3 linked regions of the Homo sapiens genome follow. The protein of the gene in region 2 purifies or fractionates together with the protein of the main gene of each other region. This does not show direct contact. Each region holds a gene or a part of one and is shown on either strand. Other genes may lie near its edges.

Evidence for each region.
Region 1: the proteins of PLBD1 (region 2) and ATP6V1A purify together in Homo sapiens (co-immunoprecipitation; one large-scale study listed by IntAct). This does not show direct contact.
Region 3: the proteins of PLBD1 (region 2) and PPFIBP1 purify together in Homo sapiens (affinity purification with mass spectrometry; one large-scale study listed by BioGRID and IntAct). This does not show direct contact.

What each region holds. Positions count from the first base shown.
Region 1 is NC_000003.12:113,792,006-113,795,661, reverse strand, and holds part of ATP6V1A (V-type proton ATPase catalytic subunit A), read right to left. Parts: intron 791-3,656; coding exon 668-790; intron 573-667; coding exon 458-572; intron 1-457. UniProt on the Homo sapiens protein: Catalytic subunit of the V1 complex of vacuolar(H+)-ATPase (V-ATPase), a multisubunit enzyme composed of a peripheral complex (V1) that hydrolyzes ATP and a membrane integral complex (V0) that translocates protons.
Region 2 is NC_000012.12:14,557,870-14,561,525, forward strand, and holds part of PLBD1 (phospholipase B-like 1 precursor), read right to left. Parts: intron 1-3,656. UniProt on the Homo sapiens protein: In view of the small size of the putative binding pocket, it has been proposed that it may act as an amidase or a peptidase.
Region 3 is NC_000012.12:27,677,581-27,681,236, reverse strand, and holds part of PPFIBP1 (liprin-beta-1), read right to left. Parts: intron 1,749-3,656; coding exon 1,598-1,748; intron 1,305-1,597; coding exon 1,176-1,304; intron 1-1,175. UniProt on the Homo sapiens protein: May regulate the disassembly of focal adhesions. Did not bind receptor-like tyrosine phosphatases type 2A.

The sequences.
Region 1 (3,656 bases), on a different chromosome or scaffold from region 2:
ACTACAGAACACCTTCTATTATGAGACATGAGATAGATATTTTATTATAATCAATTTTATTATTCTAATCAAATAGATGAAGCAAGGAGGAAACGCTCTAAGAAAAAAGTATGGCTTTATGTAGTGATCACGAATCTTCACTTTCTTTTTACCGTGATGCAATCTCACCTTATTATGTCTATAATTTTCTAAATTATAAAAATTAAATAAATATCTAAATTAAACATATAAATATATAAATTAAAGTCAAACCTATGGAACCAGGACATGTAGAAATTGCCTAAACATGTGCATCTTCAAAGAGCTCCTTAGGTGACTCTGGAGTGCAACCCTCCTTAAGAACCGCTGCTCCCAGCGGGAGCTAAATATTCTCTCTTTAAAATAAGTGACTTTTTTTCTCTCTTTAATACATCTGTGACTTTTTTCCTTTTGCAAAGTAAATAGTGTGGGTGCTTACGCTCCTACAATGCTGACACTCCCTTCTCTTTCAGGATTTCCAAGACATTTCACCCTGCCTGCTCGTTCATAAAACGAGGCCAGACGGGCACCAAGATAGGCTGGATATCCACTATCTGAAAAATGAAAAGAAATTTTAAAACAGAGTTTCTAAGCCAGCCCCGAAAATCCCATCAGTCTTGTTTACATGATAAGCAATACACAGACTTACCTGCAGGCATTTCAGCTAAACGACCAGAGATTTCTCTAAGGGCCTCAGCCCATCTAGAGGTAGAGTCAGCCATCATACTGACATGATAGCCCATGTCACGGAAGTACTCTGACAGTGTGATTCCTAAATTGGGAAGAATATTATTATAAGTTACAATGCTAGCATATAAAAATCCTGTTTTTTTCCACCCTTAAGAAAACCTTAAAGCAATAAGTACACAACGTAGACTGCTAGTGGCTCCCTCAAAGCTGCTCTTCCTCTTTTTCTGGGCACACACTGAATTGTTTCCTAGCATCCTGTGCACTTAGATATGGCCATGTAACTGATCTCTGGCTAACAAAACTCAAGTCAAAATAATGTGTTCTACGGTCAGGCAAGTCACACGCTCTTCCATACTCTTTCTTCCTTCTGGCCTACTGAAATGGAAAGAACTCCCAGTAGTCTTGGAAGCCATGTGTTGAAAATGGTAGAGCTCATTTCAGGCTGGATCATGGCTCAGAATGACAGAGTAAAGAGTGCCCTGAACACTTGAAATAAACATCTATTATATTGAGCAAATATATATTTGGAATTATTTGATGCCATAGCCTAGCTGGCCCTAATATAATGCACATTTTAGAAAGCAGGAAATGACTTTCTCTATTCTTTGTTGAAATAATTAAGTCTGAAATTAATTTTCAAATGTAGCTTCTCTCTATATATCACATACACACACACAAACATGTATGCATGCAAAAGTAACCCTTAACCAATCAGCTTGGGTGGTTACTTTTCAAAAGTAGCAAATGTTATTAAAATGAGTAATATCTTAATTGTCCAGATTATTCTGCTATGCAGATCAGGTCCTATCCTGTAAATTTAGACAGTAAACCACTTATAAGCAGCTAATATACAGAAACGAGTGTTGGGTTCTAGTTCCTATTCTGTCATTAACCTTAGCAAAATAACTTGATTTCCCAGTGTGGCTTCCTAACCTATTAAAAATGGAATAACGCCTGCCCTATATACTTGTATATATGGCAGATGAAGTGAATTAAATAAATGTCATCTAAAAAGTACAAAGCGCTATGAAACACTAAGATATTAGGAAAAATATATAGTTATATTATAAAAGTTCCAAAAGATTTTGGAACTTTTATAATGCCTTGGTTTTTTTATTTTACTGGTAAAGAAACAGAGGTTTATATAAGTAAAATTAACATAATTAGTGGAAAATTCAGTACTTTCCTATTTATCATATTGCATCTTTCAGAATAAAAAATACTGACTGTTCAGGCATCCATAAAATGGTCTCATGAAGAAAGTCTTTAGGAAACATTACTTATCAATATTAAGGCTTCAACAACACAATAATTACCACATATTCCAATCTAATAAGAACAGATTCTTTCTTATACAAGCATGCTGTGTTTTAAATCTGTGATGAAATGTCACAGATACTTGTGATATTAGAAAGAAATGGCAGAAAAGACAGATACATATGAGTAAGTGAGAATTCTCTGACAGACCTACAGGTATCAGTGCCTACAAGAAAAATATGCCTCAGACAAAATCAAGAGATAAACAAGCTGGGACATATTTGCAACTCATGACAGATAAAGGACGAATTTATTCATTAATCAAAGAGTTTCTGGCCAGGCGCGGTGGCTCAAGCCTGTAATCCCAGCACTTTGGGAGGCCAAGGTGGGCAGATCCCCCGAGGTCAGGAGTTCGAGACCAGCCTGGCCAACATGGTGAAACCCCATCTCTACTAAAAATACAAAAATTAGCCAGGTGTGGTGGTGGTGCATGCCTGTAATCCCAGCTACTCGGGAGGCTGAGGTTGTAGAACTGCTTGAATCCAGGAGGCAGAGGCTGCAGTGAGCCAAGATCGCACCACTGCATTCCAGCCTGGGTGACTGAGTGAGACTTTGTCTCAAAACCAACAAACAAACAAAAAAAAACAACAAAAAACCAAAAAGAGTTTCTAGAAATCAGTATGAAAAACAACTATCATCCAAAAGGAAAATGAACACAAGGCAGTTTTTAAATGGTTCATACACACAAGAAAGATGCTAGTTCATTGTTAAATACAGATTGAACAGGTATCTAATAAAGCAAGAATAGTTAAAATTTCAATTGTCAAATCTAAGTGCTGGGTACATGGTATTCACTGTAACATTCTTTCAACTTTTCCGTATCTTTGATAATTATCATAAGAACGTGTTGAAAAAACTAGCATTGGTGAAGATGTTGAGAAGCAGAAACTCTTGTCCACAGTTAGCCCTTTTGAAGGGCTATCAGAATGTAAAATAATAATTAGCAGCTGTATTGGCAGGAATTTTGCTTCTAAGAAATTACCCTAAGAAATGTACAAAGAGGCCAAGCATGGTGGTTCATGCCTATAATCCCAGGACTTTGGGAGGCCAAGGCAGGAGGATCTCTTGAGGCTAGAAGTTGCCCATCCTGGGCAACATAGTGAGACCCCCATCTCTACAGAAAATAAAAAAATTAGCCAGGCATGGTGGCTCATGTCTGTAGCCTCAGCTACTTGGGAGGCTGAGATGAGAGGATCCCTTGAGACCAGGAGGTCAAAGCTGCAGTGAGCCATGAACATGCCACTGCACTTCAGCCTGGGTGATAGAGCAAGACCCTGTCTCTAAGGAAAAAAAAAACATGCAAAGAAACATGCATGCAAAACATACAAAGAATAGTGTAAAAATATATGTTTAAGGATGTTTTAGTGCTGCCTATCGTAAACGACGATAAAGAATCCAATAGTCCACCAAAAAGATGCCAGTTAAATTGATTATGATATATCCATACAAAGGGATACTGTGCAGCCATTTAAAAGAATAAGGTAGCTTTCTTAAAATGGTAGATGAATATGTCACTGTCTCTTCCTCATAAAACTTACCTCCAAACAAGGAGAACAAGAAATACAGAAATACAAATTTAGTCATTAAAAACTAGGAGACATAGTCCCACAACAATATAATTTAAAAAGTCA
Region 2 (3,656 bases):
CCATTACTGGGCATATACCCAAAGGAATATAAATTGTTCTATCATAAAGACACTTGCATACGTATGTTCATTGCAGCATTATTCACAATAGCAAAGACACAGAATCAACCTAAATGCCCATCAGTGGTAAACTGGATAAAGAAATTGTGGTACATATACACAATGAAATACTACGTAGCCAAAAAAAAAAAAAAAAAAGACTGTCTATCAAATATGCACTAAAAGTAGAGTCTTAATACTAGAGCATCATGGCACCGTGCTCCCGGGGCTCGGTGATAGGCTGGGGCTTAGTCAGGCTTAGAAACTAATCCTGATTAAACGCTTAAGGAATGATCTGAGTAGGCCTAAGTCAATTGACTTCTGAGTACAATGACCATCATGGCAGGCCTTCACAATCGTTAATCGGAAGTAATGGCATTAAGAAATAGGGAGGTGTCAAATAATTTGCCAATAAACTGCGGGTGACAAATAATTGTCTGATTGTTAATGGAGCCATTTGGCCACAATTTGACAATTGTAGGCAGCACCCACAGAAACTTCCCTTCTCCACCCAAAGGCAATAAATGTGTTTTCCAAATCCATTTTTGACCATATATCCCCAGCTTTTCTCACACATTCCCTTCCACCCTCGACTCCAGGGAGCGTTGTAGGGAAATGAGGAAGTGTGGCTGCTGGAATAAAAAGCAGAGTCATAAACAGGAACCATAAAAGAAAAAAGGAAGGTGTGTCTCTTCTCTTTTCTTTCTACCCACAAAGCATGATTTTAGCTTTTTCTTCTTCTCCAAAACCTTGGCATTTCTCATCGTAAGCACCCCAGGCCTGCCTTCCCCTTCCCTTTCCAATCAACTCCTTTTTGCTGTAATTTGGGGCTTGCTCAAGGCAACCTGAGTACTAAACCAAGAGCTATGTTTTCACTGTTGCTGGTCCTACCTAATTTCCTGACCACAAAAAGAAACTTCTGCAAATATGTGCTTTTTTGACACTCGTGTACCTCCATGAATGAAAAAACCTTTACTCAATCCCCAAGAGATTTTGGTGAGAAAAATGTCCTGCCAACAGCTTAGCATGTGCTTTGAGAATAAAGCCAAAATCAGAGTTTTCACTCCACTCCAACCGAGGTCCTCCATTCCTCAATGTTTTCTCTAAGTTTCAACTCTTCCTGGTTTTCCCAGTATTCATGCTATTTTCTGATTTTCTTAAATCCTGTAATAGTTTAAGCCATTATACTTTTCCATTTTTTAAAAACATCTTCATGATGGGAGGTGGCTGGTATGAAAAATGTAATAGTGAAAAGGTAGAAAAATAGTACATAATTCTAATGCAAACCTAGTTTTATACAAGCTCTGTGAAAGCGCGGACTGTTTCTGCTTAACACTCTATAAACCTGACAAAATAATGTTTCTTTGATGAATCTAGTTTGTGTGTGTTCTCTAAATGAAAAGAAAGCCATTTATTTATTTATTTATTATTTATTTTTGAGCTGGGGTCTCGCTCTGTTGCTCAGGCTGGAGTGCAGTGGCACAATCACAGCTCACTACAGAGTGGAATTCCTGGGTTCAAGCAATCCTCCTACCTGAGCCTCCCAGAAAAGGAAGCTCATCAGAGCACTCATTCACAGAAGTTAGTATGAAATAACTCAAGTAATTATGTTTTCAAGCCTGGGTGAGAAACTTACTAAATGGCTCGGAATCTTGGATTAAGTCTACCCAGCCCCAAGAGCAAGAGCTATTTGTTGGTATTTTCTTTAGAGTTGTGAAAAGGAAAAGTCAGAATTCAAACATTTTAACAGCAATATCCTCAAAATCAATGCACTTGATTAAATATCTGTTGAATGAATGGGAATCTTATTTATAAAAAGTATTTTTTTCTATAAATAAAGATGGAAAATGTGCCATCATTTTTATATTTCTCTCTGTAAAAGCCCAAACACCAAAATTAAATTTATTTTATTAATATTTACTTGTATACTCTGATTAATATTTTATTTATTTAATTTTTTTTTTTTTTGAGACAGAGTTTTCGCTCTTATTGCCCAGGCTGGAGTGCAATGGTGCGATCTTGGCTCACCACAGCCTCCGCCTCCCGGGTTCAAGCGATTCTCCTGCCTCAGCCTCCCAAGTTGCTGGGATTACAGGCATGCGCCGCCACGCCTGGCTAATTTTGTATTTTTAGTACAGACAGGGTTTCTCCATGTTGATCAGGCTGGTCTCGAACTCTTGACCTCAGGTGATTTGCCTGCCTTGGCCTCCCAAAGTGCTGGGATTACAGGCATGAGCCACTGCGCCCAGCCCAATTAATATTTTCTATGAGTTCATTGTTTTCAGTTGAAAAAATTCCTACCCTGTCTTAGGAAAAAAAATGTATAAAATACTCATAAGTAGCTTAAACTATTCTCTCCCATATTTGGATTCTATAATAATTTTTCTAGCACCTCATTTATGAAAGAGCAGGTAGTTTTCAACCCCAAGCAATGCAATGTTTACTTAATATATTCAGAAGTCAGAGGGGAAAAAAAGAGAAAGAAATGAGAAAGAGATCAAGCAAAAGATGTTGGAGAAAATAGAAAAAAATTAAAATGAAAACAATCTATTCATATTGGGTTTAGCTAAAAATTCACTGGTTTTGGTCCTTGAATTGCTTTTCTCTTTTATGTCTGCTCGGCTAGTCTCTCAGTATACCTCTGTGTACCTTGGCATTGCACTTGCCTTCTTTGAAAGGTCTCTCAGTAAATTGATACCTGGTTTTTGGATTTGTTTTGACTCTTCATCGGAGTCACTAACGAAATAACTGATTTGTAAATTAAACAATCTCCAGTAAACAAAATTGCAAGTAGGTGTTTAAGCCTTGGCTCTCTCCAGATATCAGAGACTAAGATGCCTGCTGGAAGGAGGATTATTTTGGCAAGTACTTCCAGAGAACAGGAGTGGTGGGCTGGGAGAGTGAAAGGGAGGAACACCGATTGAAGGGTGCATTCTGAGCTGGTTTCCACTGTGGACACAGGGGTTGATCCCACTGGGACTAGCCTCGGAAATCTTCATCCCAGGGATGGAGGACCCAGCTACCTGCTCCCATACTACAAAGGTCAAACGTTGCCCTAGGAAGGGTTAACTCCCTCACTCCATGTCTGCATGTGCTCCAGGACTAAGTGGCTGTGATTTCAGAGACGCCCTGAGGTGGAAATTAAGAGATTTCTACAGTGAGGTTGAGATGAGGCACCTCAGATCACCTGCAGGAAGTGGAAATAAAAGGCAAGTGAGAGGATGTGAGGTGGGCCTCAGGGTCAGGAAGTGCAGGACACACTAGATAAGTAGAAAGGGATACAGCTTTAAAAACTAGCTTCAAAACAACAATCCACAAATGCAGAAAAATGCCGGAGATTTGCTTAGATCTGGAATGATCCCTTTCCTTCATCCCGTTGAAACATACCGATTTGTCACTGGCAGCTGAAATCAGAGTTCTTGCCAAAAGCCCTATCAGCTGAAAGTCAACTTTGCCCCATTCTGGTTCCATGCTGTTAGGTCAGTCCTCATCTAGATTACTCATTAATTATGCATTTGTGTCTGCTTGGTCCTAAAAATTTGATTACAAGCTCCTTGCAGATGAGAGGTGGAGTCTCACATTTCATTGTATCCACTCCCTTGGGCCTAGCACAATGC
Region 3 (3,656 bases), about 13 Mb from region 2:
AGATTGGATTCCCAAACAGGAAACTCAGTTGGACTGAAAGAAACTTAAGTCTAATTTGAACTAACTTTAGCAGAATTATGGTTTCTTTCCATATGGTAACCAATGAGAAGAGGGCAATATGTTGTCACTGAGTGTAGGAAACAATCAAAGCAAAATTCCTGTTTTCTTTTACTTAGATACACAAATAGTGTTCTTGTTCCGGGGTGGGGGCAGGGTGCGGAGGGGAAGATGAATGGTTTTTTTTAAATAGTACAAGGAGCTCTACTGTGTTCAAAGACAACATATGGCAAATGAAACTGTTTGGTATTTGAAGAAGGCCAAAGAGAGTTTCCTCCTTGATGTAACCTATGTCCAGTGTTCCACCTGTATGGGAGGGGCTATATGTAAAGGGTTTCTAGTCAGTCTATTATACTGTTAAAAGATTTGGTATCAATGTCTTGTACTTTATGTTTGCCAACCCCACCCTCTTATGCACAGTGAGTCAATGTAGTAGTTCTAAGCCAGCCCTAAACTTTGGTTAAGAGTGTCAGAGCAGTTCTTAGAATCTTAATGGATAAAATATTATATAGTCCTGATAAATACAAGGATTCTGATAGCATTTTTGTCTTTAAGTGCTTTCATAGATTCTGTTACATGCTAATGTTTCTTGAGTAGTTATTATCTGCCAAATATTTAACACATATTAACTTATTTAACCTTCATGGTCAGCTTTTGGGGTAGGTACTAATTATGATGATGAGGAGACTGAGGCACAGGGTGTGGAAGCTGTTGCTCAAGGTCACCCAGCTGGTAGAAAGTGGTAAGGCCAGAAAGCAAATCCAAGTGGTCTGATTCTAGAACATACTCTTAACCACTATGCTATCCCATCTTTCCAAAGTTATGCTTTAGAGTACTTGTAATTACCATCTACGTAAAATTTAAGTCTGAGAGCCATTCTAACACAGATGCTGCTGACACTTTAGCTCTGGCCTCTCCCCTAGTTCGCACAGCCCTCACCTTCTGTTTGTTCATCAACCATTGACAAATTGCACGGCTCTAAAGATGATGGCCCCTTTCATTAGGCACAGCATTAAGCAATGACTTTGTTTAACCCAATGACAGTACTAATACTGCAGGACTCATGAGGCTATGATGCTTGGTAGAGATGCAAAAGTCTATCAGTTGGCTCTTCTTACCTGTTAGACTGTCCCAAGTCTCGAGACCAACCTAATCGGGGCCCCGCGGTTGCCCTTGTCCCTCCTCTTTTGAATTCAGGCTCAGACATGTCATCTGGGTTGAATGTAGTTGATTGACTTCTCCTAAGTCTAAAGAAGACAACACACATGGCCAGTATTAGACCTGAGGAGGCCTTAGACTTGTTAATCAGAACATTTTTAACTAGTGCACCTACTGGAACTAATCCTCTTTGTGTTGTTAACATAGACATTTAAATTTAAACTTTAACTAAGACCCAATGAGTTAATAAATCCCACATCACAATCCAAACTTCCTTCCATAAGAGGAATACAAAGGCCTTACAAAGTCCATACCCATGTCCAGCCACTTTTAAGCAACATGTAAGACAGGGCCCATTCCACTTGTTTACTGCTTTACTTACTTTCCAAAGAGTTTCATGATACCTCTGGATTTCTTTTTGGAATCTGGAGATGGAGGCGGTATCTGGAAGGGACTGTTCCTCTGTGAATCTTTTGGCCGAGAAGAAGCACCAGCCAGATCTAGGTGCTCTGCTGTCTCTTTTTCTGTTTCAGCTACTCCAAGAGCAGAATGCAGACAATGAATTTTAAAATATGGAATAAACATGATGTTAATCTTCTTGGTTCTAGAACTGTTAAGAATTCTTCTGTTGGTCTATAATCAGTGACTTACAAAGAGCACCTTGTAAATATTAGAAATGGAACACACATATACGTTCTGCTCCATAGTTTACTGTGTGTAAACTTAATAAAATTACAAGCCCTTTGGAGATTAAAAGAATGTGATAGGATTGCCACATTCTTTCCTTGAGTGATTTCAATTCATAATGGAATTATTCCCAATCTTTCCATAGCACGTGGTACTGTTGATTACCTGCTACATCCTTCAAAATCATCTCCTTTTGCTTCTTGACATGACCACTCTCCTACATCTGTCATCTGATAGTGTCTTTGCTGTAGCACCCCTGCTTTTTTTTCTTCCCCCATGCCACTTTAAGATTATATTCTAAATGCCCTCTAGAGGATCAGAATCTCTGGGCCTAATCTCTCTCTCTAGGCTCTGTATCTAAATGCCTGTGATATTCCCAATTCAGTGTGTCGGGACATCTGGGACTTCACAAACTCATCCAATTTCCCCGAGAGTCTTTTTCTCTCTTAAATGTTTTTTTTTTTTTTTTTTTTTTTTTGAGACAGAGTCTCACTCTGTTTCCCAGGCTGGAGTGCAGTGACATGATCTCGGCTTACTGCAACCTCCGCCTACTGGGTTCAAGCAATTCTCTGCCTCAGTGTCCCAGGTAGCTGGGATTACAGGCACCCGCCACCACACCTGGCTAATTTTTGTATTTTTAGTAGAGACAGGGTTTCACCATCTTGGCCAGGCTGGTCTTGAACTCCTGACCTCGTGATCCACCCACCTCGGCCTCCCAAAGTGCTGAGATTACAGGCGTGAGCCACCACGCCTGGCCTCGTCTCTTAAATGTTCTTATTTGATATTTGGTTAATATTAATTAATACTGTCCCTGTTACTCTAGCTCAGACTCTATGTCATTTTCCTTTTACTCCTTCTCCTTTGGCATTTACATCAAATCAGTTACCCAGTTCAAGCAATTCTTTATTTTTGAAATGTATTCCAATCTATTAAATCCTAGGCACTGAGAGAAGAATGAACTGGATATGCCTAATTTTTCTTTTGACATAAAGTAAGTGCCTGTTGATTTTACCTTAAAAGAATCACATCCACAGTTGCCACTCTCAGATCTCCAAGCATTAACTATTTCAGTTCTTTTAGCTGTCCCTTAGTGGACAATCCCATACTAGCAAACACAAGGGCTACTGTTGTCTTCAGTGTGAGATTTTATACTTTATAAAAGAAAGTAAAAGTTGTACTAAAATCACAAGAACAGTGTTTCAGCAAGATCTATGAGTTGCAGAAAGTTGATTTTTCTACAAAGCAGAGCTGTGATTATAGGTTATAATAAGCAGCATTTACCTCTTAGCATTAACAAAACAGTTCTTCTAAGAAAGATGCAAAAAAAAACTATTTGAAAATAGTTGTCTGAACAGATCAGTTTATTTTATGCATCCAGTGTTCATTCTAGACATTTATATCGATAGAGAGAGAAGTCCCGTTTGCTGGTCCATGTGAATAGATAGGTGGATATCTATACAAGGTAACAGCACCTTTTGGAAAAACCCAAAGGAACTTTCCCAATTCAAATCCTTCAACCACGATGGCTACAGGTGCCCCTGAAAATGCTGCCTAGCTTATCCTCATCTTAAAACTACCATATTTCTCTTTTTTATTTTGAGAACTTTTTTCCCCATTTGTCCCCTGCCTTACAAAGAGGAAAACTGAGCTGCCCCTCTTCTAAAATCACTTTGGGGGGTAACGCCTCAGATATCAAGTAAAGTTGCTTCTGTCATCACTAAATATTATCTCCATCTTCAAAGTAATAAAACGTC